4 linked regions of the Homo sapiens genome follow. The protein of the gene in region 4 purifies or fractionates together with the protein of the main gene of each other region. This does not show direct contact. Each region holds a gene or a part of one and is shown on either strand. Other genes may lie near its edges. The genes, in order: NELL2, TIMP3, COLGALT2 and COLEC11.

Region 1 (7,027 bases), on a different chromosome or scaffold from region 4:
ATCAGTAACAGGAGAATTCCACAAAATTTGCAAATACATAAAAATTAACATGCTCATGAACAACTAATTGGTCAAAAAAGAAATTAAAAGGGAAATTAGAAGGAAAGGGGAAATTAGGGAAATTAGAAGACATCTTGAAACACATGAGAATGGACACAACATACCAAAACATAAAGGATGCAGCAAAAGCAGTTTTCAGAGGTAAGTTTATAGCAACAAATGCCTACATTTAAAAAGAAGAAAATCTCAAACAAATAACCTAAAGTTACAAATAAATGAACTACAAAAAGAAAAACAAAATAAGACCAAAGTAAGACCAAAGGAATGAAATAATAAAGATCAGAGCAGAAATAAATGAGAGAGACTAAAATTAATAGAAAAAATAAATGAAACAGAGAGTTGTTTTCTAATGAAGATAAACAAAATTGACATGCCTTTAGCTAAGAAATTTAAGAAAAAAGAGAGAAGACTCAAATAAATAAAATCAGAAATGAAAGAAGAGACATTATTACTGATACCACAGAAATACAAAACATCATGAGACTACTATAAACAATTATATGCCAACAAATTAGATAAACTTAGAAGTTTAAGTGTATATGTCTAGGAATGTATTCATTCCTAGACACATACAACTTACCAAGACAAAATCATGAAAAAATGAAAAATCTGAACAGACAAATAACTTGTAAGCAAATTGAATCAATAATAAAAAGTCCTTCATCAAAGAAAAGTCCAAGGCCTGATGGCTTCACTGCTAAACTCTATTTAAATAACCAATACCAATCCTTCTCAAACTCTTCCAAAAAAATGAAGAAGAGGGAATAAATTCCAAATTTATCTTATAAGGCCAGCATTACTATGACACCAAAGCCAAATAAGGATACTACAAGAAAATTACAGGCCAATATTGCTGACGAACAGAGATGAAATAATCCTCAACGAAATACTAGCAAACCAAACTCAACAGCACATTAAAAGTATCATTCACCATGATCAAGTAGGATTTATCCCAAGGAGGCAAGAATGGCTCAACATACACAAATCTATAAATGTGATACATCAAATTAACAGAATAAAGGACAAAATCCACATGATCATTTCAACATATGCAGGAAAACATTTGACAAAATTCAACATCATTTCATGATAAAAACTCTCAATAAATGTATAGAAGAAATGTATCTCAACACAATAAAGTTCAGATATAACAAATCTACAGCTAACATTATACTCAACAGTAAAAAGTTGAAAGTTTTTCCTCTAAAATAAGGAAAAAGACAAGGATGCCCAATCTTGCCACTTCTATTCAACATAGTACTGTAAGTCCTAGACTTGCAATTAGGCAAGAGAAAGAAATAAAAGGCATCAAAATTGGGAAGGAAGAGGTTAACTTATCCCTGCTTGCATTTGACATCATCTTATATCTAGAAAATCCTGAAGATGCCACCAAAAAATTGTCAGAACTAATAAATGATTTCAGTAGAGTTTCAGGATATCAAATCAATATACAAACAAAAAGTAGTGTCTCTATGTTAACAATAAACTGGTGAGGTGCAGTGGCTCACACCTGTAATCCCAGCACTTTGTGAGCCCGAGGCGGTCCAATCACTTGAGGTGAGGAGTTCAAGACTGGCCTGGCCAACATGGTGAAACCCTGTCTCTACTAAAAATACAAAAATTAGCCGGGTGTAGTGACGGGTGCCTGTAATCTCAGCTACTTGGGAGGCTGATGCAGGAGAATAATTTGAACCTAGGAGGCAGAGGTTGCAGTGAGCCTAGATCTCACCACTGCTCTCCAGCCTAGGTGAAACAGTGAGGCTCCATCTCAAAAAAAAAAAAAAAAAAAAAAAATGAACTACCTGAAAAAGAAATCATGAAAACAATCTCATTTACAATGGCTATGAAAAAGATAAAATACTTACATATAAATTTAATCAAGAAGGTGAAAGAGCTGTATACTGAAACTATAAAACACTGATGAAAGAAATGAAGAAGACACAAATAAATGAAAAGATATGCTTTGGTCATGGATTCAAAGAATTAATATTGTTAAAATTTCCACACTATCCAAAATGATCTACAGATTTACTGCGACCCTTATTAAAATTCCAATGACATTTTTCTGTATTCATTCATCCATTGGTGACCATTAATTAGGTTGATCTCACATCTTGACAATTATGAATAATGCTGCAAAGAACATACGAATGCAAATGAACACATAAAGAAAATGTGGTATATGTACACAATGGAATACTATTCCACCTCAAAGAAGAAAATCCTGTTATTTGAGACAACGTGGATCAACCTGGAAGACATTATGTAAAGTGAAATAAGCCCTTCACAGAAAGACAAATACCACATGATCTCACTTATATGTGGGACCTTAAAAAGTTGAACTTATAGGAGCAGAAAGTAGAATGCTGGTTACTAGGGCCTGGGGATGGGGGATAGTTGTTGGGGAGATGTTGGTCAAAGGACCAAAATTCAATTAGATGGCACAATATGTTCAAGAGATCTATGGTACAACATAATGACTATAGTAATAATACATTGTACTCTTCAAAATTTCAAATAGATTTTAAGTGTTCTCACCAAAAAAAATTATAAGTACATGAGGTAATGAATATGTTAATTAGCTCAATTTAGCCATTCCACAATGTATATTTCAAAATATTGTGTTGTACACAATAAATGTATACAATTTTGTCAATTTAAAAATAATTAAATTTTAAGTAACAAAACATAAAACAAAAACAAAAGTCTCAAATCTCATCATCCAAATCATCTAAAACAGGTATGAGAAAGGCGCTGCATATAATCCATTCTGAGGCACACCTTGAAACATAGTATCTGCTCTCAAAAACACAATGGTAAGGCAGATAAAGATGATAGTTCTAAATATTCTCATTCAAAAAGGGAGAAAATGGAAGAAAGAAAAAAAAACAATTGCCATATCCAAGCAACTTTAAAATCCAGCCAGGCAAACACCACTTGGTTTCAAGGTCTAGAAATAAGCTTCTGTAATTATTGGTTCCACCCTCTGGAGTCAGCTCCATGCTCTGGGCTCTGAGTTCTGCCCTTTGAATTAACCTTCTTTTTTCATGAAAGGTAGCTTCATAGAAAGATGTTGACAGCCAAGTCAGCCTGTTTTTTGCTTGTAGAATTTTGGGGATCCAACACCTTCTTTCATTTTATTCTCTCACTGATTCTTTCAGGCCACACCAGCAGCAATTTTACTGCCATAATATTCTTAAGAACCTTGTAGATCTCCCATGTATGTCATGGGGATTCACTCCATTAAACAAAAAAGGCTCCTCCATAGATATTTCTTGGATAATTCCATCTCTATTTGTGACCTCTGCTGAAATGGTTGAGGGGATCTATGAGTCATATGTTCTTCAAAGAGCCCTCAATGTAACTGAATACTCTGACCTTTTGATATTTCTGAGGCACTAGCAAAATATTTTCTAGTCACATCCTTGGCTTTCTTTTCAGACTAGGTATTCCTAACAGTGAATATCCTATTTTAACATGTTTTGGAATCTGAATAGGTTGATAATTTCTCAAATATCAAGTTATGAATATGTTTTGCTCAACAATTATTCCCTAAATCTCTCTCTCTCCTCTCACGTTACTACAAACAGCAAGAAAAAGCCAGAGTGCACCTTCAACACTTTTGTTGCTTACAAATCACCTTAGCTAAAATCTAAGTTCATTGTTTACAAGTTTTGCTTTCCACATAACCACAGGGTACAATTCAGCTAAGTTTTCTGCCACTGTGTAAGAAGGGTCCCCTTTCCTTCAGTTTATAATAAAAATTCTTTATATCCATCTGAGCCCTCAATGGCAGTTCCTTCAATGTCTATACCTAACCAATGCTCGCTTATGATAATTTAGGAATATTCAGAGGTGATTTAGATTTTCTCTCTACCATGCTCTTCACTTTCTTCTAAGTCCTCAATAATAGAGTCACCAATAACCATATTTCTACTGAAAGTCTATTTAAGGCAATCTAGGCTTTTTCTATCATGCTCCTAAAAATTCATCCAGCATCTGCCCATTGCCCAGTTCCAAAGCCACTTCCATATTTTTTAGGTATTTCTTACACCAGCACCACACTTCCATGCAGGAAAATTTGTATTCGTTTCCTATTGCTGCTCAAACAAATCACCACAAACTTAGTGACTTAAATCAACACAAATCTATTATCTCACAGTTCTGGAGATCAGAAGTCCAAAATGAGTCTCATTGGTCTAAAATCAAGGTATCAGTAGCACTACATTCCTTCTGGAGGCTGTAAGAGAAAACTCATTTTCTTGCCTTTTTCAGCATCTAAAAACTGCCTGCAGTCCTTGGCTTGTGGCCCACTATCACCTTTAAAGCCACCAGTGGCCAGACTAGTTTTTCTCATATCACATCACTCTACACTGACTATTCTGCTTCCTTCTCCCCATTTCAAAAGATTCTTCTGATTACACAGGGCTCACCCAGATAACCTATGATAGCCTCCTAATCTTAAAGTCAGCTGATGAGCAAACTTAACTTCCCCTTGCTGTATAACGTAACCTATTGTTTGGTTCCAAGAATTAAGACATGAACATCTATGCAGGACCATTATTCTGCCCACCATAATATATATTTCCATAATGATAAATTTTCAATTCTGCTCTATTAGTATAGCCTACCATGTAACCTGGTTCCTGCTTTCCTCATATACTTTATTTCATATCACATGCCCTATGTTTCTACTTCTCTAGACTTCCTCCACGTTCTCAAATGCACATTCATCCCATGCTCAGAACCTTGCTCACACACTAGTCCCTTTGCCTATCCCCATAGCTTCTCTTCTTTGGACTACTCTTACATATCCTTCAACTATCAGCTTAAATGACTATTCTTCAAAGATGGTTTCCCTGAGCCTGAGACTCCCCTAACTAAAATATAGATTCCCATTATATCTTCAGTTTTTCTTCATATAATTTATCTTAATGGTGATTAGGTCTGTAACTATGTAATTGTTCAACGGCTATTTTTAAGACACTATGAAATCAAAGTTAAGTTCTAACGTCTTCATTTGTTATGTGCCTAACACCTAGCAGTATGCTAGTTTCCCAAAAATAACTTATTTGAAAGAATGAAAGTAACTCGCTTAATTGTCATAACAATGATCATTTTATAATTGAGGGTACTGGAGCTTAGAGAAATTAAGTAACTTCACCACAGTAAAACAACTAATGAAATTCCACCTCAGTCTATCTTGTTTCTAAGTGCATCTCTTAAACACTGTGTTATTCCACACTATTTGGGCACCAACAGCCATCACTTCAAAGTCCACAGATGCTCACCAACCATCATACTGAAGACAAATTAGTGCCACCTCGATTTCCTCAATGCAGTTACCTTTGCCTACTAAAGTCCATGGTCTATTACCAAATGCCTATTTCACTCTGCGTAACACTGGCATAAGAGGAGACGTACGACCTTTTTTTCCCTTTAAAACCTTAAAGTTTTTTACAAATAACTACTAAGCTTATTTTCAACTTAACAACTTGTAAAAAAAACATGCTTTGATTTTATCCACTTCTCTTCTATGGATTAATGAGATTATAAAATCTGTTAACACTTCAGAAGAAATTGTATTAAACCAACAGAGGAAATTATCTACTTTGGGAACCTGGCCAGATTAATTGTTAAAATCAAAGATCTAAAAATCATGCTAACATTGCTAGAAAGTCCTAGAATGGTGCTTCTGTATACTCTCATTCCTGATCCCTCATGTACAGAGAGGAAAAAAACATTATTATGATCATTATCTTGGGGAATACTTCCTAGATTTTAGAAAGTAGAACCCTTTATAACCTTTCATAGGTCTTTTTATTGTCTACATTCACTCCTCTAATTTTTAAAAGCATAATAAGTGTATTTTTGTGGCTGCAAGTCAGATTATAGCTAGAAATGACTAGAAAATTGCCTGGATTCCTTTTTTGAAAATTATGGTAATTGGCAAAGATCAAAAGCCATATTTATTAAGGTGTAATCTAATTTAGCATCTTATTACTTGAATTTCCAAAACAACTATAAATCAAATTTCAACAACAACAAAACCATTTTAGTGATACTATAGTTGCTATTATTATTTTTAAAACATATGACTTTAAAATATATTTCCATTTGTTTTTATTAGGTATAGATAATAATAAATTTACGAGTTTCAAAAGGTATTGAATTGCATGCATCTCAAAATCCACTAAGGAGAAAAACTGGCACAAGGAAAAGCAATATTAAATGAGCAAAAATCACTGGGAAAGTATATGTTGAGATTTCTTTATTTTAAAGCTAAAAGACAGAAGAAGATGGTTACATTACTGCAGGAAAAATTTGATGGTCCAAAAATCTCTTCCATCTATTTAGAACATATCTGATAGCACAAAGAAACTTATATGATAGGTTCATATGAAACCTGAGAGCATCTCACGGATTTTGTAATTTGTTACTATTCCTGCTATGACTATGTATAGTGTATATGTATATACCGTACAAAATATCTGCAGCACCCTCAACTCACTGTAAATAGAATCTATAAAATCTTCAGTCTGTATATTTTTTTCTCTCTAAAGCCAAAGGAAATCTCAATGAAGCAGCAAGACTCGGAACTGACTTCTTAACAAGTTTCCAAATGCTATTAGCAAAGACCTTGCCAAGGTAATGCGAAATTCCATGCATGGCCAAAGGGCCACCTTTTGTCAATTTCATAATCCGAATCTTAGAATAAAAGAAATCACAAGAGCATAATCAATACATCAGTAATATATGCCTACTGAGAACATGGCATGCAGGAAATACTTGCTGATTGATTGGTTATATTAAATAAAGTCCATAATTTGGCAGAAAATGAAATTTTACACCTTCAAATCTCATAAACCATATTTGTTAGGCATTTACTCTGTCTAAATATTGAGCTCGGCATCAACAAGGAAGGAAAAACAACCAATTCATCAATGTACATGGATATCTAGTTACT
Region 2 (7,027 bases), on a different chromosome or scaffold from region 4:
TTGACTACACTCTCATCTGCCATCTGAGCTAAGCCAGGAAGGCAGTTAAAGAAAGGCCCCCAAACATGAAGCAGGGACAAGGAGACGGACAGGGGTCAGATGACCCATGATAGGGAAGAGAGGGTGCTGACGGTGTTCAGAATTTCAAATTTTAATTAAAATGAAAAAAAAATGTCAACTTGGAATGTCATGATTTTCTTCAAACAAGCAACGACAACAAAATAGAAGAGATTAAACTATTGGCATATTTAACAGCATTGAACAGAATTCTGTGTCCTGTAAAAAAATTAGCTTATGTCCCCATGTGGGTATATGCAAATGTGTATACAAACATATCCCCCTAGGTGAGCTAAACACTATTCTGGAAATAGTATCCTCTACCCAAATCTACTTGGCTATATCTGTGGATAGTGTATGGTGTGTGTATTTATCCAATTTACATAAAAGAAAGCTCCTGGCCAAATCTACCAAAGCGTTTTCCAGGAGGAAGTCTGGTGGGAGGCAGGGAGAGGAAAGACATTCATCTCAGTCTTTCACCTGAGCTTTTGTACAAGGCAGGCAAATTGCCTCCTGACCTCAGGCAGATGTTTAAGTCTTCACCAACTAAGAAAGCTCTGTTATTCTGGCCTGGGTGCTTGCTCCAGACTCAGGAACATCTGGTCAACACAAGCATCACTGGGCTGGGGAATTGTGTGTGTGCTGCATCATCTCCGACTCTCTTGTAGTTCCTTCCTTCCCTCCCTCACTCTTACATGCAGACACAGACAGACACAGTCTGGTTGGGACATGCAGTGGCAGCTCCTGGTGTATAACATCTTTCACACACCTTGAGTCTATCTGCTTGCTGCCTTTGACTGATCCTGAAATGGTTGGCCTTTCAGCAAGTTCCTTGTCTGTGTCCTTTATGTATTGGAGGAGAAGGGCAAAGGGAAGAGGGTCTGGGAGATGGTGAGGTGGGGAAGAAGCAAGAGGGGTGGGAATTACAATCCTCAAATGGAGTAGTTTTTCATTTTTGTTTTCCTAAAAAAATAGAGATTATATTATCACGAAGAAGAGGAATACAGGTTCCTCATTCTTTCTGGCATGGCACCAGAAATTCCCAGGTGGAAATGAATGATGTCAAAACCAAAAAGAAGGGGCAGGGTGGGGCCAGGAGGATAGTTCCCAATAAACCCCATATGACAGCATAGACCTTTCTTTAAATGTTCCAAGTGCTAAATTTGCAAGAAAACAGGCACTAATTTCATTGTCATCATCTGGGAAGAGTTAGTGTCCAAGGGAAGCTCAGCGGGAAGGGAGGGAAGTGAGGTGGGGCAGGGTCTGGCGCTCAGGGGTCTGTGGCATTGATGATGCTTTTATCCGGGGGGGCCCATCCTCGGTACCAGCTGCAGTAGCCGCCCTTCTGCCGGATGCAGGCGTAGTGTTTGGACTGGTAGCCAGGGTAACCGAAATTGGAGAGCATGTCGGTCCAGAGACACTCGTTCTTGGAAGTCACAAAGCAAGGCAGGTAGTAGCAGGACTTGATCTGCAATTAGATAACAGGCAGCAGTTGATGGACTCTGCCATGGTATGCCCAGGCCTGAGGCTACCGAGCCTGGATTCAGACCCTGGGGCCACTGCATGGGAAGCCTAGCCACATCAGTCCCTCAGTGATCATAATATAAATAGCACTAGCTTGAGCATCTGCTGTCTAACAGACATTCTGATAAGTGCTTTGATATTATTCTCTTTAATTCTTATCACAGTTTTAGGAGGCTCTGAGAGGTTAAGTAACTTGCTGCAGGTCACACAGCCAGTAAGTAGCAGAATTAGACTACTGAGAGGACTTTTTCGTCTCAGGTGGGAGATCTCAGTTGTTTTAGGGAATCGAGGAATTAGAAAGGTTAGAGCATAAACTTTGGAGTCTAGCTGCCCTAGGTTGGAAACCAGATTCAGTGAACTGTGGGACCTAGGGCTAGTTACTTAAGTTCTCTGAGCTCTCATCTGCAGAATGGAGATCATAGTAATTAAAACCACACAGGACTGTTTTGAAGATGAAGTGAGAGAATGGCCCAACTTCCTCCCACAGCAGGCAGGCTGCACCTTGGCCCTATACTTGGGTCAGGGGGATGGGCCTGGTAAAGAGAGACCTTCTGTAGCATCTGGTCTCTGCAGTCCTGGGCCCATTTGCCTACCTGGGGTGGGGTTAGCGATGAGTCAGCTACCAGGGTGAGCCCACTTGAAACCACTTGGGAGAACCTGCCAGTGTCAGGATCCTATACCTCCAGCCTTGAACTGCCAGGTGGGGCCAGGGACTCAAGAGCCCTCATGCCCCAGCAGCTTCCAAGTGGTCATCATGGAGGCAGCCGATTACAGCAGAAAGGCATTCTTCCTTCCCTGCCTTCCTCACTGCCCCACCTGGGGCAACAATCCTTACTATATCTGCTCAGACCTGCCCCTCTGCCCTGGCCTAACACATGCATACCCTTCCCAGCCGAGGGCCTGGCACCCAGTGCATTGGGAGCTGATGTTTCTAGGGCTGCAAGTCAGCACCTCCCCTCCTTCCCCCAGTGACCCCAGAGCTTACCTTGCAGTTACAACCCAGGTGATACCGATAGTTCAGCCCCTTGCGCTGGGAGAGGGTGAGCTGGTCCCACCTCTCCACGAAGTTGCACAGCCCCGTGTACATCTTGCCATCATAGACGCGACCTACAGGAGGAAAGAAGAAAACAAGGAGAGGTTGTTTTGTCCAGAGCCTAGCCCAGAGAGAATTCACACCTACTATGTTCCCACTTAGCCCAGGCACTGTGGCTGGGTACTTTTCAGACCCATGATTTTATTTCACCCTACCCAACACCTTTTAAAATGGACTGTAGCCCCATTTTCCAGATGAGGATAATGAGGCTTGGAGAGGTAAAGTGATTTGCCAAAGGTCCCAAGCCCATTAAATACTGGAGCTAGGACTAGAGGCCAACTCTTCACTCCCTTTATAATGATTTTTGTTTTTGTTTTCTCCTTTACTACACTGACTGCCTAAAGATGAATAACTTTCAAAGACGGGCCTAACAGGTCGAGTGTGAGGTGGAGAGGAACAGATACTCCCTTTTTATTTACAGTAAAGTTGAGAAGCTACAAATTAGGAGATTTCCTCCCCCAGGTGAGTGGTGGAGCTAATTCCAAAGTCCAGCCTAAGTGTAGGAGCCTCAAGCTCCTAGCACTGGGTAAGTGGGATGAATTCAACATTAGAGACTCCTTACAATTTACTGGACATTTGGTGAGTCAACTACTCCGTATGTGTTCTTCTGAAGTCAAGAAACAGTGGACCTTGGCCAAACCCTGGCCTAGAAGCTAGAGTTGGCCATTACCTGTCAGCAGGTACTGGTACTTGTTGACCTCCAGCTTAAGGCCACAGAGACTCTCGGAAGCTTCCGTATGGATGTACTGCACATGGGGCATCTTGGTGAAGCCTCGGTACATCTGTGGGCAAAAGGAACATCATGACTTCTTCTTTCCCAGTTTGGACACCCGTATGATCCCTAATCCCACTGCTGGGTATGTATCCAAAGGAAAGGAAATCGGAATATGGAAGAGGGGTCTGCACTCTCATGTTGACTGCAGCAATATTCACAATAGCCAAGATATGAAATCAACCTAAGTGCCCATCAACAGATGAATGGATAGACAAAACCTGGTATCTATACCCAATGGAATATGATTCATCCAGAAAAAAGAATGAAATCTTGTCATTTGTGGCAATGCAGCTGGAACTGGAGGTCGTTTTGCTAAGCGGAATAAGCCAGGCACAGAAAGACAAATACACCATGTTCTCACTCATGTGGGAGCTAAGAAAGTAAATCTCATAAAGATGGACAGTGGATTGGTGGTTACCAGAGGCAAGAAAGGTAATAAGGATTGGGGCAAAGAGATATAATTAATGGGTACAAAAATACGAGTACGCAGAACAAGTAAGACCCAGTGTTCATTGAATCAGTAGAATGACTACAGTAAACAATAACTTATTGTATATCTCAAAGTAGCTAGTAGAGGATAATTCAGATGTTCCCAGCATGAAGAAACGATAAATGTTTAAGGTTATGAATATCCCAATTACCCTGATTTGATTACTATACATTTTTGAATATATCAAAATACCACATGGACTCTCAAAATATGTCCATTTATTATGTATCAATAAAATAAGAGGAACACAGGAGAGGAGTCTCAGTACCCAGAAGGCTTGCTGACATTGGATCTGAGGGAATCTCGCTCCCCTATTCAGCTGTCCAGTGGCCGGTCACTGATCTACCCACCCCAGGGCCCCCTTCACCCCAGATGAAGCCACCGATCCTCTTGACTAGCCAGGTTGGTGCCTTCCCAGAGAAACCTTCCTGTGCAGCCAGCCATACCCCCCATTCCAACTGCCCCACAACACTCCTTCGGCTACACATGTCTGACATCCCAGCACCTTTTCAGAAATCCAGAGAAGTAGCTGTGACAAAGGTCCTTTTTCTTTGTCAACCTTAGGACCTGAGTCCCGTGAACTCAGCCAGCATTCTCATGATATCTCTGTGACACTTTCCAGCCCACAAAAACATTCTCACTCACATTCTCCTTGCAGTATCCTTAAAAGAGCCCTGGGAGGGATGTATTACAAACCCCACTTTATAGAAATTCTATTTGGCTGGTGAACGTTGAATTCAAGCTAGAAATTCTCCATGTTTTTTATTCTTCTGAGCGTCTGGTGAAAGCATTGGGTTCGTTTATCCCAGATGAAGCACATAAATGTATCTACAAAGTTCAAAGAGTTTTAACTGTTAAATACTTTATAATTGTTAGATTGAACCACGTGAAATTGCTGATATTTGGCTATTTGTATCTACGACATAATCTAATACAGTGGTTCTCAACTGGAGGCAATTTTGCCCCCCTAGGAAATATTTGGGACATGTGGCAATGTCTGGAGACAATTTTGGTTGTCACAACAGTTCGTAGAGGGTAGGGAGGTTGCTAAACATCCCATAATACTCAGGACAGCCCCCAGAACAAAGAATTATCCGGCCCCAAATGTCAATGGTACTGAGGTTGAGAAATCTCCTTTAATATTAGCCCACGAATCACCATGACAACCCTATGAGGTAGGAACTATTATGCCCATTTTATAGATGAGGAGCCTGAGTCACAGGCAGGCTAAGTAGCTTGTTAAGGCCACACAGTTGGGAAATGGCAGGGCTAGGATTCCAAGCAGAGGACTCTGCCTTCAGAGTCCATACTCTTACCCATTATCTTAGACTGGCTCCCAGGAAAGCCTCAGAAGTCTATGACCAAGGTCCCCAGAAGCAGGCAAATGCTATTTCCATTTATGGCCACTGTGCCTCCTTCAGAGGCACAGTGTGTGCCCAGAGTCACTGGGGTGAATGAATGTAACAGAAGCTGAGTCCGCTTTGTGATTCCAGGTCAAGTCCATGAGTATTACACAAGCCCAGTGTGCCAAGGCGATACTGTGAACTGTGAGATTTGGTAACGGGGGCGGTGGGGCACCAAGGTGTTGCACAATTCTGTTATCCCCTCAGTTCTCAGCGTACACAAGCCCTGGACTGCTGGTGGTCTCTGGGCTTGTCCCAAGGGTTTATAATAGGAAAATGCCTCTACTTTACTTCCTGGCATTTGGTATTAATTTACCTACAGTAATTAATACAAAGCCAGACATCTCTTCATTGGTGTCTCTTCTAAATGCCTCCCATTTGGCCTGTGAGCTGGCGTTTTCTCATCTTTTAAGTGGTGACTGGTTGGCGGGGGTAGGTGGTCCACAAGACCTTCATAGCATAACTTGGTCTGTTGGACCTACTGAGTTTGGGCGCCCCTGCCTTGTTAAAAGCACACATTGTTCTGATGGACTCAGATGGTCTTCCTTCTGAACCTCTCTTCTCCCCCAAGGCTTGCCAACTGAGCACGGTAACGCAGCCAAGTGCTGGAAGAAGTGCCGTCCACACTCAGCATTCAATTACGCGGTGGGGGCGCGGGGTGGGTAGAGTCACGATGATGACTTCTTCTATGTGAATGGTGCCTCTCTAGCCTTAACAGGAACCATGTTTAAGCGTGCTGCTGTATGCCTGCCATGGAGTGTGGCCTTCGAAGAACATCCCCTACCCTGACTTCTGTGCCGAGCAACTTCTTATTTTTGTGTGGGTGTTCCTTGAGGTTTTGGCAAATGTTTCAACTAAGCACTCGCTCTAGGTCTTTTGGACCCAGCCCATGGGAACCTCATTCCTTCTGCGTCAGTCTTTCCCCTTGACTGCCCTAGTGCTTCGTGGGTGAGAGAATGAAGCCCCTGGTTACAGTCTGGTCATTTGAACTGCTCAGTAAGAACTCAACTCATCGAAATCAGCTTGGCACCGCAGCTACTTGGAAGTTTGAAGGAACCTGCATTTTAGCTCCTAGCACTTGCCTAGAGTCGAAATTCTGACACATTACAAATGACTGGCTCTGACAAACATAGCGCTGTGTTTTAGGGTCAATTCTGAAAAGAACAACATGGCAAAGGTAGATTCTACTCAGTTGTGTTTTCTGTGTAATAATCCTACCTTGATTTAAATATTGATTCTAAAAGTATCATGTCTGTAATCATAGAGATCTAGAATTGGTTTGACAAATTTAGGAGAGTTATAATAGGTTTATAATGTCCTGACATCAGAGAATCCTAGAATCTCAGAGTTGGAAAAGATGTTAAAGGTAATCTAATCCAAACCAATGCCATGGAGATCAGTGGTAAATTCAGGTTTTGGAGGCTGACAGCCAGAGTTTGAATCTTCAATCTTCTCTGCCACCTGTGTTCGCCACTTGGAAAGTTACTTAACCTCTTTGGGTCTCAGTTTCTTCATCTGTAAAATGGGTCAAAGCACTTCTTAGGGTGTTTGAGAGAAGCAAATGACTTAGAATAGCAGTCAGCCCACAACATTCAATAAAAGTTAGCTTAGAACAAGTTATACTGAAATTCGTAAGGAGAGGAGGAATGAGTTTGGTCCCCTTTCTCCTAAGTCCCTTCCTCAGC
Region 3 (7,208 bases), on a different chromosome or scaffold from region 4:
GAAAATGAATGTGAAGTTCTTAGAAGAACCACGAGCTCTTATTATTATGTGTGGAATTTATAAATAAATGTAATTTTGAGTAAGTCAATCACTTTAAACACATTTCTTCTTCTGGGAAATAGAGATAATTTTATTTCTTCACAGAATGGCAGTAAGAATCAAATGAGTTAACAGTGCATGGAAGTTATTTCCAAAGGTTCTTTACAGCTCCTTTGTGAGCTGAAAAGAACTATTTAGAAACTGGGATTTGTATTATTGTTACCTAAAGAATTACACAATGTTTTAAAGACAGAACCAAAATTTTTCAAAGAAGAGTCTTCAATGACTGACGCAAGCATGGCCTTGCACTTCTTGCTTAACCTGCCAATGCTGGACATAAAAGACAACAGATTTCAAAGGTCTATGCAGAACTGGAATTCTCTCATCTAAGTAAGACACCAGTGTCCATACCATCTGGAACTTACAGGGAACTTAGGATGTACATTGATGCTGGTTGATCCTAATTATATTGCAAAATCTATGGAATTCAAGAGCCATAAAGAATTTTTGAAATCATTTATTCCAACTCCCTCGTTTTATTGATGAGGCAACTGATGCCTATGGATCCCAAGCAACCAGCCCCAAATCACATATCAAACTAGTAATAAACAACTCAAGTCTCCTAATTTGTAGATTATAGGCTTATGTAAATTTTGTTTATATCATGTTTCCTGCCTTTTTAGGGTGGCCTTGGGTTCAAATTCCAGTTTCACCATTTATTAATTCTGTCACTTTAAGTGACTTACTGAACTGATGCAAGTCTGTCTCTTTCTTTGCAAAATAAACATCATAGCATCCTCTTAAAAGTTTACTGTATGATAAAAAGAGGTAATGTCTCTAAATCAGGTAGCAAAGCATGTGCCTGACACCTGCTTCACCACTCACCAACTTCTTATGGTAAATACTGTAACGTTTTAAAAAACTAAATCATGCATAAAGATCAAAACCATATTTTAAAATATCTCTTAAAAAAAACACAACAACTAAGGTAACTGATATGTGTGAATTTCTTTTGGTACCGAAGTGGTTAAAAAAAAATCCTTCCTTCTGGTTTAAAGCCTGGCTGTCCCAGTGCTCTCTTTCCACATAATATGCCCTTCTCCGCCAGGCGGTCACGTATGGCAGGGTATATAGTAAAGCAGTGTACAGCACAGAGCTGTACTATATCACATGTTTGCTTTCGCACCTTTGCACCTCTCCCACCAGGTACTCTGAGGCTGCCAATTCTAGCTGCTGCTTTTACTCCTCTTCCTCTCTTTGCCCAACCGCTGCTTTAAGGATGTGTCTCGCCTGAGAACAGCTCCCTTTATCAACACAAGACAGAAATTGCTCCAGAGTGACCTGGGCTCTGTCTTCCTCAGGGGGCCAGAGTCTTCTTGTCCGAGTACCTACCTGACAGCACATCTCCCCTGGCCAGCATCCACCTCCTTGTCCTCCACAACCCACTCAGCGGCTAACCTGGCCACCAACTAACTTCTCGCCCTCGGATCCTCGCGTTTATAAAAGGTGCGAGACGACCAAGTTCTACAAGGTGGGGCGGGCAGGCACCCGCACTTATCCCCTGGCCCTCCCCGCAGCAGACACAGGGACCAGGTCCAAGCTTCTTTCCTCCGGGGACAAAACTTGGCTGTTTATCTTTCCCAGGGCATCTTCGTCTCTCCCCGGGACGTGGAACCCCGATGCACCGGCAGGGACAGCCCGGAGCGCTCGCAGGAGACCAGGCCCACGGTGGTGCCATGGTTGGGCACACTCCGCGGGCTCCGCCCAATCTCCACCCCTAGGTCCAGGTCCCCCTAGGAGAGCTAGGAGCACATTTCCAGCCTGGAGCAGGAGCCCGGCACCGGAAAGTCAGAGCAGCGCACTGCGGCGCCCCAGCCACTGCGGAGCCCCTGGCCAACCGCAGTTACGTTCCATCTGTCGTATCTACATGGGAATACGGCGACAGGCACCCTATCCCCTCACGTCAGGGCTAGCAGTATGAGGTGGGGAAAGAGGAAACCTCGAGAGTTAAAAGCGAGGGAACTGAAAGTCCCCTTGAGGGGTGTCCCCCATGCCCCTTGTGGGACAAAGCCCCAATTCGCAGGCTACCCTCCAGAGCTCCAGCGGTCCGGTTCTCCCCATCAGCACCCTCTGCGCACACTGACCCGCGCGTCCCTCCGCAGCCTGACCGCCCGATCCGCCAGCCACCGGCGCGGGCAGCGAGGGGGTGTGTGCGCCAGATTTTCCGCGTGCCCCCCCGCCCCTCCAGCGGCTCCCTCGCCCTGCAGCTGCTGCTCCGGGCGCTGTCCGCGCTGGGCAGGCCGCCCCCGCGTCCCGCCGCGGCGGCCCGGGGCCCGTGCGCGCTCACCAGATGGCCATCCTGCTCTTGGGGTAGTCCAGCCGCTCCAGGCAGCCGAGGAAGTGCGGCAGCGTGTGCGCCGCGTTGCGGGCGAGGACCGCCACGAGCACCGTGGGGCTCTGCAGGGGCGACTCCGGGAAAACCACCGGCTCCTCTCCGTCGTCCTCCGAGTCCCGCTCGGCGACGAAGCGCGCTCGGCAGCCTTCGCGGAGCAGGGCTGAGGAGAGGAGCAGTAGCGACCAGGCGAGGGTGGCAGCAGGGCGCGCAGCCATGTTCCGGGCCGAGGCGGGCGGCGGGGAAGTCCTGGCGCGAGCGCCCGGCTGGGCTGCCTGAGGGCGGCGGCGGCTGCCGGGGAGCAAGGGGCTGCGAGGGGCGGCCGGGGGATGCGGCTTGCCGCGGCCGGCCGGCTCACACACTGGCCTCGGCGGCTGCGGTTCCCAGGACCCTCCCGCCGCCGCTGCACCGCCCAGGCCCCAGTGCGGGTGCGCAGCGTACCTGCAGCCGCTGGCGCTCCCCTGCGCCTCGGGCTCGCAGACAGTAGTGGCCGAGGGGCTGTGTGCCCTGAGTCCTGAGGAAAGTTCCTCTAGTCCAGGTTCCGCTCGTACAGCTGAGGTCTGTGGCCTTCCCTAGAGCCGCGAGTTGTGGCCCTGTCTGCCAATGAGCCTGTGAGTGTGTGTGTGTGTGTGTGTGTGTGTGTGTGTGTGTGTACATAACGGTACAACCCCAAGAAAATTTATTCTGCTTTTGCAAACCGCAGACTGAAGCCCTTCACAGTGATGCAATGTATCCAGTTTTCATAATGCACCTATTGACTGAGTAGAGTTCTAAAATGAAAAGTCTCCCCAACTATTCACGATTATGACAAACACTTGTTTAACCACCGCAAAGGCAGCATGTCGCATTTTCTTATATACTCAACTTCTGAAATTCATTCTTGACTGAGTAGACACCTAATAACACAAAGTTTGAAGACTTGGAGAATTTTGGAGCCAGATCAGACCCCGCAAAATAAAAGAAAGCCCTTGGGAGACACTGTCCTGAAGCCTCACTCTACTGTGAACCCAGTAAGCCTCCTCACAGGAGGGCTGTGAAAGAATAAATTCACTTAGCTGGTTTTCTTTTTCCGTAATAAGCCAATATGATAGAGTAACAAAGAGGGAAAATTCGCGCATGTTGGAGAGCAGAGAAGAGATAAGGAAGAAAAGAAGGGGTGAAGGAAGAACACAATTAGCACATAAAATGAAACTGCTGGCATACACTGCTAAAGGAGATTTACTTTTTTTTTTTTTTTTTTTTTGAGACAGGGCCTCACTCTGTTGCCGGGGCTGGAGTGCAGAGGCACGATCACAATTCACTGCAGCCTCGACCTCCTGGGCTCAAGCAATCCTCCCACCTCAGCCTCCCGAGTAGCTGGGACCACAGGTGTCCATCACCACGCCTAGCTAATTTTTTTTTTTTTTTTTTTTTTTGTAGAGACGGGTTTTCACCATTTTGCCCAGGCTGGTCTGGAACTCCTGGGCTCAAGTGATCTGCCCAACTCGGCCTCCCAAAGTGTTACGATTACAGGCATCAGCCACCATGCTCGGCTGGATATTTAGTTTTGAAGATATATTGTGTAGCCTTTGATAGATAAGTATGGAGGGTGTTTTGGTGCCAGTGCACATTCATGATCTCCAATCCCAACTCACCCTCAGGTCTGTCCCATAGTCTTTTTATTAGTTGTTATCAATCCTTCTCAGCAACTATTAGAAGTCTTCCCTACTGTCTTTTGAAGTATATCACCTCCTTCATCCAGCTCCCCCAACACCACTGTCTCCAACTAGCATCCCTACCAAGACCTTTCTTACTTGCAGGTGCCTCCTCACGACAGGGTCTTTGATCACAGACTAGAAAGGGAGAGGTCTCCCTTTCTAGCCCATGATTTTTCTCTATCATTCCACTCTCTACTGAATCTTCAACTGATCTCTATCAACTCCTTTCTCTCAAGCTAAATACTTGGTCAGTCTTCTCTTATCCGTTAAAAAAAAAAGAAAGAAAAGCTTTAAAAAAAAGTCCTGTGTCTTCTTCTAGTCATCCCTTTGCTTGACCAAGCTCCTTGGAAGAGAGATCTATACTTGTATTCTCCACTTCTTCATCTCCCATCTTTCCCACCACAGTGCAGTAAGGCGTCAGCCCTCCCCACTGTTCTGCAAAACCAACAGATGGCCTCAGCATTGGCAGATTCAGTAAACTCTTCCGTTCTCACCTTCCTGGACTTCGATTACATAATCTCCCATCCTAGATCTCCTCTGATACTACTTGTCTCTGAGCCAAGCCCCTTCACTGTGTGCCTCCCTATAGTGTGCTAGTCTTCCCACTCCATATGGTCTCCTGTGGTTATATCCTCAAAATCTATGTCTTCTGCTCTAATCTCTTCTCTAATCTTCATATTTTTTTATCGAATGGCCTACAGACATTTCCTTCCCCTCCATCCATTTTCAGGAATTGTTCCCACTTTCAAGGGGCTCACAGTCTTGTAGGGAAGACTGAGAGTTAAACATCTGTTAGAAGTACTGTAACAGATGTACCAGCTACAGTGAAGGGATAGAGGAAGATGTGGTCATTTCCACAAGGGAGGTAGTGATGGGACTGTTAGAAAGGTCCAGACAATCTCCATGTTGTTCTGTCTTTCTTGTTTCCCTTTCTTGAACTATGTCCCACTCATCTTTCAATACTAAAATCCGCACTCCTTAGCCAAACTTGGTTTGATAGTTATCATTTGTTCACTTTACTGCAAACAGAGGGAGTTTAAAGCTAGGCAACCACATTTCTGTCTTATTTTCCTTCTGTTACTGATATGGTCTGCCTATGTCCTCACCCAAATCTCACATCGAATTATAGCTCCCATAATCCCCACGTGTCGTGGGACGTAATTGAATCATGGGGGCAGGTTTTTCCCATGCTAGTCTCGTGATAGTGAATAAGCCTCACAAGATCTGATGGTTTTATAAAGGGCAGTTCCCCTGCACATGCTCCCTTGCCTGCCGCCATGTAAGGTGTGTCTTTGCTCCTCCTTTGCCTTCTGCCATGATTGTGAGGCCTCCCCAGCTATGTGGAACTGTGAGTCCACTAAACTTCTTTTTCTTTATAAATTACCCAATCTCAGCTATGTCTTTATTCACAGCGTGAGGACAGACTAATACAGTTACCTAAAGTCAACAGCTTATCTGAGTCTATTTTTTCAAAGAAAGGTGAAGCATCTAAACCTGTATGGTCTCTAATGACATTATAATGAAATCGGCTCCATGGAGTTCTCTTAAAATAACTACAACCTGCTCTGCTCTGTAGATGAAATCAAGGGTTTCCCAGCCACATAACCTACAAAACACCTATTTAAAACTTTTAATTGAGTGCTCATTTAGTGACTGAGAATATTAAGGTAATAACAGGGTATGCAACAGTAGAAGATCATTGTAAATATGGTTGGGAGGCAGTGGAGGGGAAGCCTGGGAAAAATTAAGTCCCCATCTTACTAACAGATTTGTTTCATAAGTTCTTCAGAAATCAGTAATGTGAATTTGGATGTTTCCCCCCCGCATAGGATTGATGTTATAAGACAGTTAATTTGAAAAAAAAAACTAATTTAAAAATAAAAGCCAATTATATTTTAAAATATTCATTGCTTATAATGCTCTTTCCATGGAAAATCGGCTGAATGGAAAGTCAGGGTTGTACACACATATCTCTTTGTCTCCACTGCCAGTAGACTGTTCCAATTGATTCTACATAAAGTTAGAAGTAAGCACTTTCTCTCATATCCCCTCCCCATACTGTTCCAGCACAGGGGACTTCCATCTGGGACAACAAAACCTCTTGGACTGTCACCCTTAGTGCAATGTGGTGGGGACAGGGCCTATGAGGTGGCCAGAGGACTTCTTGCAGGAAAGCTTCTCAAGATGTCTGTGGCTCCAGCAGCCCAGAAGAGGAGGAAATAAATGCCTCTGGGGCAGCTGTGATAGGCTTGAAAGAGCAACTGACACTTGGAGCTGAATTTTCATTTCACTGGTGTCACTTATTCTCTTTGTGACCTTGGAAACTTGACCTCTTTGAACATCAATTCCTTCCTAGGTAAAAAAGTTTTAAATGCTTGCCTCATTTTTTCATTCAACAAACATTTATGAAATTGCTAAATGCCAATCATTTGAGTGTTGAATATTTGAATGCTTCTCCCTTGGAAAAACAGGGAGAAAGTGGCCAGCCCCTCGTAAGTCCTGCTGGGCCATAGTTGGCAGAAAGAGTCTCTTGGCTGAATTATCCAGGCTTCTTTCTTCTGTACTGAAATATCTTTCTTTCACTACCTGGTTTGTTTTACTCGCTTTTCTGATCCATCCTAAAATCCTACAATGTAAAATGTACTTGAATTGACAATTCTGCCAATTTCAACATGAAAATCCTTGAGAGAGGAGCATTAGATGATATCTTTTTAATTCAATCAGATTTTTAAATCTTATCACCTAAACTGAAATGGCCTATAAGAAGTTTTGATAAAGGGAACTGAATGGGATCCTAATTTGAAGCATGGGTCTCTTTGGTGACAAAGCAAGTTTTATGGATTTCTGATACGTAGGCCCGAGGACTCTGGGTCCTAGGAAGGGAATTAATATTAAGGGAGAAAAAGAGCAGTGACTGAGGTGGGAAAGGCTAAAATTAAACTACGTCAGTGTCAAAGTTTTGTCTATGCTCTGGCTGCATCCAAGAGCTATAGAATAGTCACTACGGAGGAATGTTTTCCAATTCAAAACAAGTTTATACAAATGTAAACTACACTTCTACGTCTCATTTAAGAATAGAT
Region 4 (6,983 bases):
GGTGAAACCCTGTCTCTACTAAAAATACAAAAATTAGCTGGGCATGGTGGCGGGTGCCTGGAATTCCAGTGACTCGGGAGGCTGAGGCAGGAGAATCGCTTGAACCCGGGAGGTGGAGGTTGCAGTGAGTCGAGATCACACCACTGCCCTCTAGCCTGAGTGATAAGAGTGAGACTCAGTCTCAAAAAAATGAAATAAATAAAATAAAATAAAAATAAAAAATACAAAAATAATGTCAAAACAAGGGGCACCACAAGGTTTGTAGCCAGACGTGCTGGTCCACTGGGCTCATAACCGTAGTCTCCCCGGCTCCTGCCTCAGCAGCAGTATTTTGGCTCCTTGTGGTATGTGGCTTCTGAAAGCAATAGTAAACTCTTCCTCCCCACCCACTCAGTACGCAAGTCGAACCTCACTTCTCAGTGTTTGCTGGATGCAAACTGGGTTTAGTTTTTTTTTTTTTTAATGTCTCAGGAATCAAAGGCTGACATGGGAATTTCCCCTCTAGCTAGAAGTGATTCTGTTCAGGTATAACCAGGTGTTCAGCAAGGCTTTTACTGCCCTCACTCCGCAGATGTCCCAGGAGTGGCTTCAACAAAGATCAGGCTCCGTCTCCCAAGAAAAGGGGTGAGTAGTGAGCAGAGAAACCCAGAGCAGCCCAGGCAGGATTTCTCGTGCCTTCACTCACACTCATCTGCTGATCCCAGAGCAGCCCAGGCGGGATTTCTCGTGCCTTCACTCCATTCATCCGCTGACCCCGGAGCAGCCCAGGTGGGATTTCTCATGCCTTCACTCCATTCATTCACTGACACCAGAGCAGCCCAGGTGGGATTTCTCGTGCCTTCACTCACACTCATCTGCTGATCCCGGAGCAGCCCAGGCTGGGATTTCTCGTGCCTTCACTCCATTCATTCACTGACCCCGGAGCAGCCCAGGCCGGGATTTCTTGTGCCTTCACTCCATTCATTCACTGACCCCGGAGCAGCACAGGCTGGGATTTCTTGTGCCTTCCCTCACTTCACTCATCCACTGATCCCCGGAACAGCCCAGGCTGGGATTTCTCATGCCTTCACTCGCTCCACTCATTCACTGACCCCGCTGCCCATTCACAGAGTTTCTGTCCACTTTCCTGCGAGGGGCCCCAGCTAGGCCTATGGGCACAAAGGAGGCACAGGCCCTGCAGCGGGGCGCTCTCAGACGCACAGCAGGAACCAGGGCAGGTAGGCACAGGGTGAGGGCACCCAGGCGCCCGAAGGAGTCTCTGCTTCCCAGAGGTCTCGCCCTCTGACTGCCTTCTTAGAAGAGGAATTCCATTTTGTAAACGGAGAAGCCACAGCTACCCCCAGGACCTCTTTAAGAACAACATCCTTATCTCCCAGCCAGGGCCCAAGACGCTCAGGGCCCTCCCATCAATGGAAGGGGCAGACTTGACAAGCAGGGGAGAGGGGGTTAAACGTGGAATCCTGAGAGGAAATACATGTTATGAATGAAATAAACAATGGGGCCAGGCCCAGTGGCTCATGCCTATAATCCTAGCATTTTGGGAGGCCAAGGTGGGCAGATCACCTGGTTAGGAGTTCGAGAGCAGCCTGGCCAACATGGTGAAACCCCCCTCTCCACTAAAAAGTACAAAAATTAGCCAGGTGCCATGATGCACACCTGTAATCCCAGCTACTCAGGAAGCTGAGGCAGGATAATCGCTTGAACCTGGGAGGCGGAGGTTGCAGTGAGCCAAGACGGTGCCATTGCACTCCAGCCTGGGTGACAGAGCCAGAGTCCATCTCAAAAAAAAAAAAAAAAATGAAATAGACAATGAGAAAAAATCATGGCTTCAGTTGCCAAACATGCTATTCTACTTTTTCATTAAGTATCTACAGCAAGGCCCAGCATCTTACAGGCACCACAAATACCTCCTAAGAACCACATCCCTGAAGCATGAGGAGGTTCCTCTCACTGGGGACTGCCCCAGCCCCACCGCGGTGTTTCCCTCCCTACAGTGACAGAGCACCTTCTGGGGCAGCCTGGATTCCACCCACAACAGCACACGCTCCTCTTAGCTTCTTACCAAGAGCACAGAGTAAGAAGGCACCTATCCTCTCTTATCTTCCCCCAGCGGTCAGCACATTACCGGTGTGCTCTCTTCTACGGTACATGGATTTTTCAAAATTGTAAACAAAATCGAATAGCTGTGAAAGATTGGGGCAGTGCTCTGCCTACCACAGGCAAAGTGCTTCCCATCAAACCAAAATTCCAGCTATGCACATGAGATGGCTTTAAACGTTCATCTTTAAATTGAGAACGACCACATCACCTCAGCTCTAAAAAGACCGCCAGTTCCTAGCGCAAGGCATCCAGGTAGGAGGCAGCGGCCCTAGGAAACTTTCCTCCTTTCCAATTTTGGAGACAAGATGACCCCACTTGGTTTTAGATGACCCCATCTGAACTCAAAGTCTTTCCCTGGAAAGTTGCCAAAGCAAGGCCCACCTTTCCCCCACCTCTCTGATCCCCGTTCCTGAGCCCAACACAGAGCCACTGGTCCCTGGGGGCAGTCGTGGCTGCTGTCCGCCTGGCCCGTCAGACGCTGCTCAGGCTCAGGAACAATCGTCAGGTTGTGAGACCAGGTACTGCACTGCGGTTTGGAATTAGCGAAGACTGTTTAGCCCCCTGGGCCTTGGGCTGTTTGAAATCTGCCACCCAAGAGGGTGACTCCATCATCCAGCACCTCTCATGGGTCGGATCCCATCTCATCAATAGGCTCCACGAATTTCCGCCATGAACTAATCAAACTTTGGAACTCTGGTGCCAGATTTATTGAGACTCAATCTTTTGCCTGGATCTAGGGACAGATTCCCATCCTCCTCGCTCAGCAGGAGCCCACCTCGCGCCCAGTTTGGAAGCCTGCCTGCCTCCCCTCTGCACTGTCATAGCCCCGTGAAACCCTCAGCTGCAGCCCCGGGCAGAGTCTCCTACCTGAGCACGCGCTAGGCGAACGGGGCGTCCTGCCCGTCGCTGGCCCGCGAGGACACTGCCCCCAGGCGCCTCATGGCTGCTATTTAGAGAGGCGGCCGCAGTCCCAGGCGCAGGGAGAAGCCTCGGCCCGGGCCATCAGACAGCCCAGCAAATCAGGCCGCCCGGCCGCAGCGTTATCTCGGGGAGCTTCCTGTCTGCGCTGCGTCCACCGTCCTGCCTGGGGAGTGTGGGAACGCCTGGAACTCCCTGAGGCCGGCTTTGGGGTGGGGGGCAGGACCCTCCTGGAGATGCCCCTGCTAACTCTCCAACCCGAACATCCCAATTTTGTTTCTTTTTTGGCTTTCTCTTCTTTCTTTTCGTTTTTTGAAAAAATAAGCATGACTACTGTGGAAATTCAAAAGAGCATAAAGAGGAGGGACGCTCATCACCTGGCACCAATCAGACAGAAACGAGGGCAGCTGACTGATCTCCTTTCCTTTGTTCATATGGGATTTCGCTTCAAAAGTCAGCAAGAGCTTGACCACGGCCTGTGGAGACCTGGCCACACGTGAGTCCGGAAACTCACTCTACGCATTTAAGTTTCATTTAAAGGCAAGTTTCATTTAATGCCAGAAACAAATGTTAGTCAGGGGCTGGACAGATCCAGCTTCTATGCAGCCCGAATCTTGCATGTTTTGGGGGATAGCGGAACCTTCTTTAAGAAAAAGATACATATAAAATTACAATCATAAGAAGCTAGGTTCAAAGGTGAATATTTATTTAGACTGAGAAATCATAAAATAAAACTGTAAAAACACAAATTCCACACACATAATAAAATTAAGGAAAAATAATGGATTCTTTATTTAAAACGTATTATTGAAGTTATACATAAATTTGACAACTTAGACAAAATGAACCACTTCTTGAAAACACGAACTACAACATGCCCAGCATGAAACAGATAATTCAACAGCCCTATGCCAAGGAAGGGAATTGAACTTGCAATTTAAACGCTCCCCAGAAAGACATTTCAGGGCCAGATGGTTTCACAGGAGGGTCTACAAAACGTTTAAAGAAAAATTAACACCAATTCTACACATCCTCTTCCAGAAAATAGAAGAGGAGGGAATATTTACCAATTCATTTTATAAAGTTGATTATTACCCTGATACCAAAACCAGACAAAGACAGAACAAAAACACTATAGACCAATAACCCTCATGAATATAGATGAGAAAATCCTTAATAAAATATTAACAGACAGAATTCAGCAATATAGAAAAAGATTTATCAACTATGACCAAATGGGGTTTCATCCAGGAATGTGAGGCTATGTCAATATTCAAAGCTCCTTTGATAAAAACCCATTAACAAGCTAACAAAGAAAATCAAATGAATATCTCAATTTATATAGAAACAGCATTTGGCATAAACCAACACCTTTCATGATAAAAACTCTCAGAAAAATAGGTGCAGGGGACCTTCCTCAACTTGATAAAGAGCATCTGTCAAAGGCAAAGCCACAGCTAACATCATACTTCATGGGCAAAAATGGAATGTTTCCTTCCTGAGATCAAGACAAGGCAAGGGTGTCCACTCTTACCTCTTACTCAATGCAGTGCTAAAGTTCTAGGCACACCAGCAGGGCCCGAAAAGGAAATAAACAGCATGTAGATTCGAAAAATAAAATAACTCTGTCCCTTGTTGCAGATGACATGGTTGTCTACTTAGAAAATCCCAGAGTCTACAAAAGAGCTCCTGGAAACTATTAAATCAGTGTGACAGGTGACAGGATACAAGGCAAACATTTAAAAAACCAAGTAGGCCAGGCGTGGTGGCTCACACCTGTAATCCCAGCACTTCGGGAGGCCAAGGTGGGAGGATCACCTGAGGTCAGGAGTTAGAGACCAGCCTGGCCAACAAGGCAAAACCCCATCTCTACTAAAAATACAAAAATCAGCCAGGCATGGTGGTACATGCCTGCAATCCCAGCTACTCGGGAGGCTGACGCAGGAGAATCACTTGACTCCGGGAGGCAGAGGGTGCAGTGAGTTGAGGTTGTGCCATTGCACTCCAGCCTGGGTGACAGAGCGAGACTCTGTCTCAAAAAAATAATAAACAATGAAAAACCAAGCAGATTTCTATAAAATAACAATGAACTCATAGACACCAAAATTCAAAATAATATCATTTACAATTGCTTTAAAAAAGGAATACTTAGGTGTAAATCTAACAAAACATATATAGAACTTACATGCTGAAAACTACAAAATGCTGCTGAAAACCTCAAAAAAGATCTGAATAAACAGAGAAACACGTCGTCTTCATAGATTAGGAGACTCACCCCAAGCACAGTGGCTCATGCCTGTAATCCCAGCATTTTGCAGGGCTGAAGTGGGAGGATCACTTGAGTCCAAGAGTTCAAGACCAGCTTGGGCAACATGGTGAAACCCTGTCTCTAACAAAAACAATACAAAAATTAGCCGGGCATAGTAGAATGGTCCCAGCTACTCAGGAGGCTGAGGTGGAAGGATCACTTGAGCCCGGGAGGTGGATGTTGCAGTTAGCTGAGATCGCACCACTGCACCCCAGCCTGGGTGACAGAGTGGGACCCTGTTTCAAAAATAATAAAATGAAAATTAAAAAGTATAGATTGGGAGACTCAACAGAGTAAAAATGTTGATTCTCCCCCAAGTTAATATACAGTACAAGCTTAACACAATTTCTATCAAAATCATAACAATAATTTTTGTAGATATAGACACGGCTATTCTAAAGTGTATATGAAAAGAGAAAGGAACTAGAATAGCTAAAACAATTTTGAAAAAGAATAAAATAGGAGGAATCAGCTCTCCGTCTCCGTCTCCGTCTCCGTCTCCGTCCCCGTCCCCGTCCCCGTCCCCGTCCCCGTCCCCGTCCCCGTCTCCGTCTCCCTCCATGGTCTCCTTCCACGGTCTCCCTCTGATGCCGAGCCAAGGCTGGACGGTGCTGCTGCCATCTCGGCTCACTGCAGCCTCCCTGCCTGATTCTCCTGCCTCAGCCTGCTGAGTGCCTGCGATTGCAGGCGCACGCCGCCACGCCTCACTGGTTTTCGTTTTTTTTTTTGGTGGAGACGGGGTTTTGCTGTGTTGGCCGGGCTGGTCTCCAGCTCCTAGCCGCGAGTGATCCGCCAGCCTCGGCCTCCCGGGGTGCCGGGATTGCGGACGGAGTCTCGTTCACTCAGTGCTCAGTGGTGCCCAGGCTGGAGTGCAGTGGCGTGATCTCGGCTCGCTACAGCCTCCACCTCCCAGCCGCCTGCCTTGGCCCCCCAAAGTGCCGAGATTGCAGCCTCTGCCCAGCCGCCACCCCGTCTGGGAAGTGAGGAGCGTCTCTGCTTGGCCACCCATCGTCTGGGATATGAGGAGCCTCTCTGCCTGGCTGCCCAGTCTGGAAAGTGAGGAGCGTCTCTGCCCGGCCGCCATCCCATCTAGGAAGCGAGGAGCGCCTCTTCCCCGCCGCCTTCCCATCTAGGAAGTGAGGAGCGTCTCTGCCCGGCCGCCCATCGTCTGAGATGTGGGGAGCACCTCTGCCCCGCCGCCCTGTCTGGGATGTGAGGAGCGCCTCTGCTGGCCGCAACCCTATCTGGGAGGTGAGGAGCGTCTCTGCCCGGCCGCCCCGTCTGAGAAGTGAGGAAACCCTCTGCCTGGCAACCGCCCCGTCTGAGAAGTGAGGAGCCCCTCCGTCCGGCAGCCACCCCGTCTGGGAAGTGAGGAGCGTCTCCGCCCGGCAGCCACCCCGTCCGGGAGGGAGGTGGGGGGGGTCAGCCCCCCGCCCGGCCAGCCGCCCCATCCGGGAGGTGAGGGGCTCCTCTGCCCGGCCGCCCCTACTGGGAAGTGAGGAGCCCCTCTGCCTGGCCAGTCGCCCCGTCCAGGAGGGAGGTGGGGGGGTCAGCCCCCCGCCCGGCCAGCCGCCCAGTCCGGGAGGTGAGGGGCGCCTCTGCCCGGCCGCCCCTACTGGGAAGTGAGGAGCCCCTCTGCCCGGCCAGCCGCCCCGTC

The links.
Region 1: the proteins of COLEC11 (region 4) and NELL2 purify together in Homo sapiens (affinity purification with mass spectrometry; 3 studies listed by BioGRID and IntAct, with this or other methods). This does not show direct contact.
Region 2: the proteins of COLEC11 (region 4) and TIMP3 purify together in Homo sapiens (affinity purification with mass spectrometry; 2 studies listed by BioGRID and IntAct, with this or other methods). This does not show direct contact.
Region 3: the proteins of COLEC11 (region 4) and COLGALT2 purify together in Homo sapiens (affinity purification with mass spectrometry; 3 studies listed by BioGRID and IntAct, with this or other methods). This does not show direct contact.

The regions. Positions count from the first base shown.
Region 1 is NC_000012.12:44,866,290-44,873,316, forward strand, and holds part of NELL2 (protein kinase C-binding protein NELL2 isoform b precursor), read right to left. Parts: intron 1-7,027. UniProt on the Homo sapiens protein: Plays multiple roles in neural tissues, regulates neuronal proliferation, survival, differentiation, polarization, as well as axon guidance and synaptic functions.
Region 2 is NC_000022.11:32,853,678-32,860,704, reverse strand, and holds part of TIMP3 (metalloproteinase inhibitor 3 precursor), read right to left. Parts: intron 3,457-7,027; coding exon 3,345-3,456; intron 2,689-3,344; coding exon 2,567-2,688; intron 1,526-2,566; coding exon 1,328-1,525; 3' UTR 1-1,327.
Region 3 is NC_000001.11:184,034,709-184,041,916, forward strand, and holds the start of COLGALT2 (procollagen galactosyltransferase 2), read right to left. Parts: upstream 3,021-7,208; 5' UTR 2,650-3,020; coding exon 2,387-2,649; intron 1-2,386. UniProt on the Homo sapiens protein: Beta-galactosyltransferase that transfers beta-galactose to hydroxylysine residues of collagen.
Region 4 is NC_000002.12:3,591,153-3,598,135, reverse strand, and holds the start of COLEC11 (collectin-11 isoform a precursor), read right to left. Parts: upstream 3,025-6,983; 5' UTR 2,968-3,024; intron 1-2,967.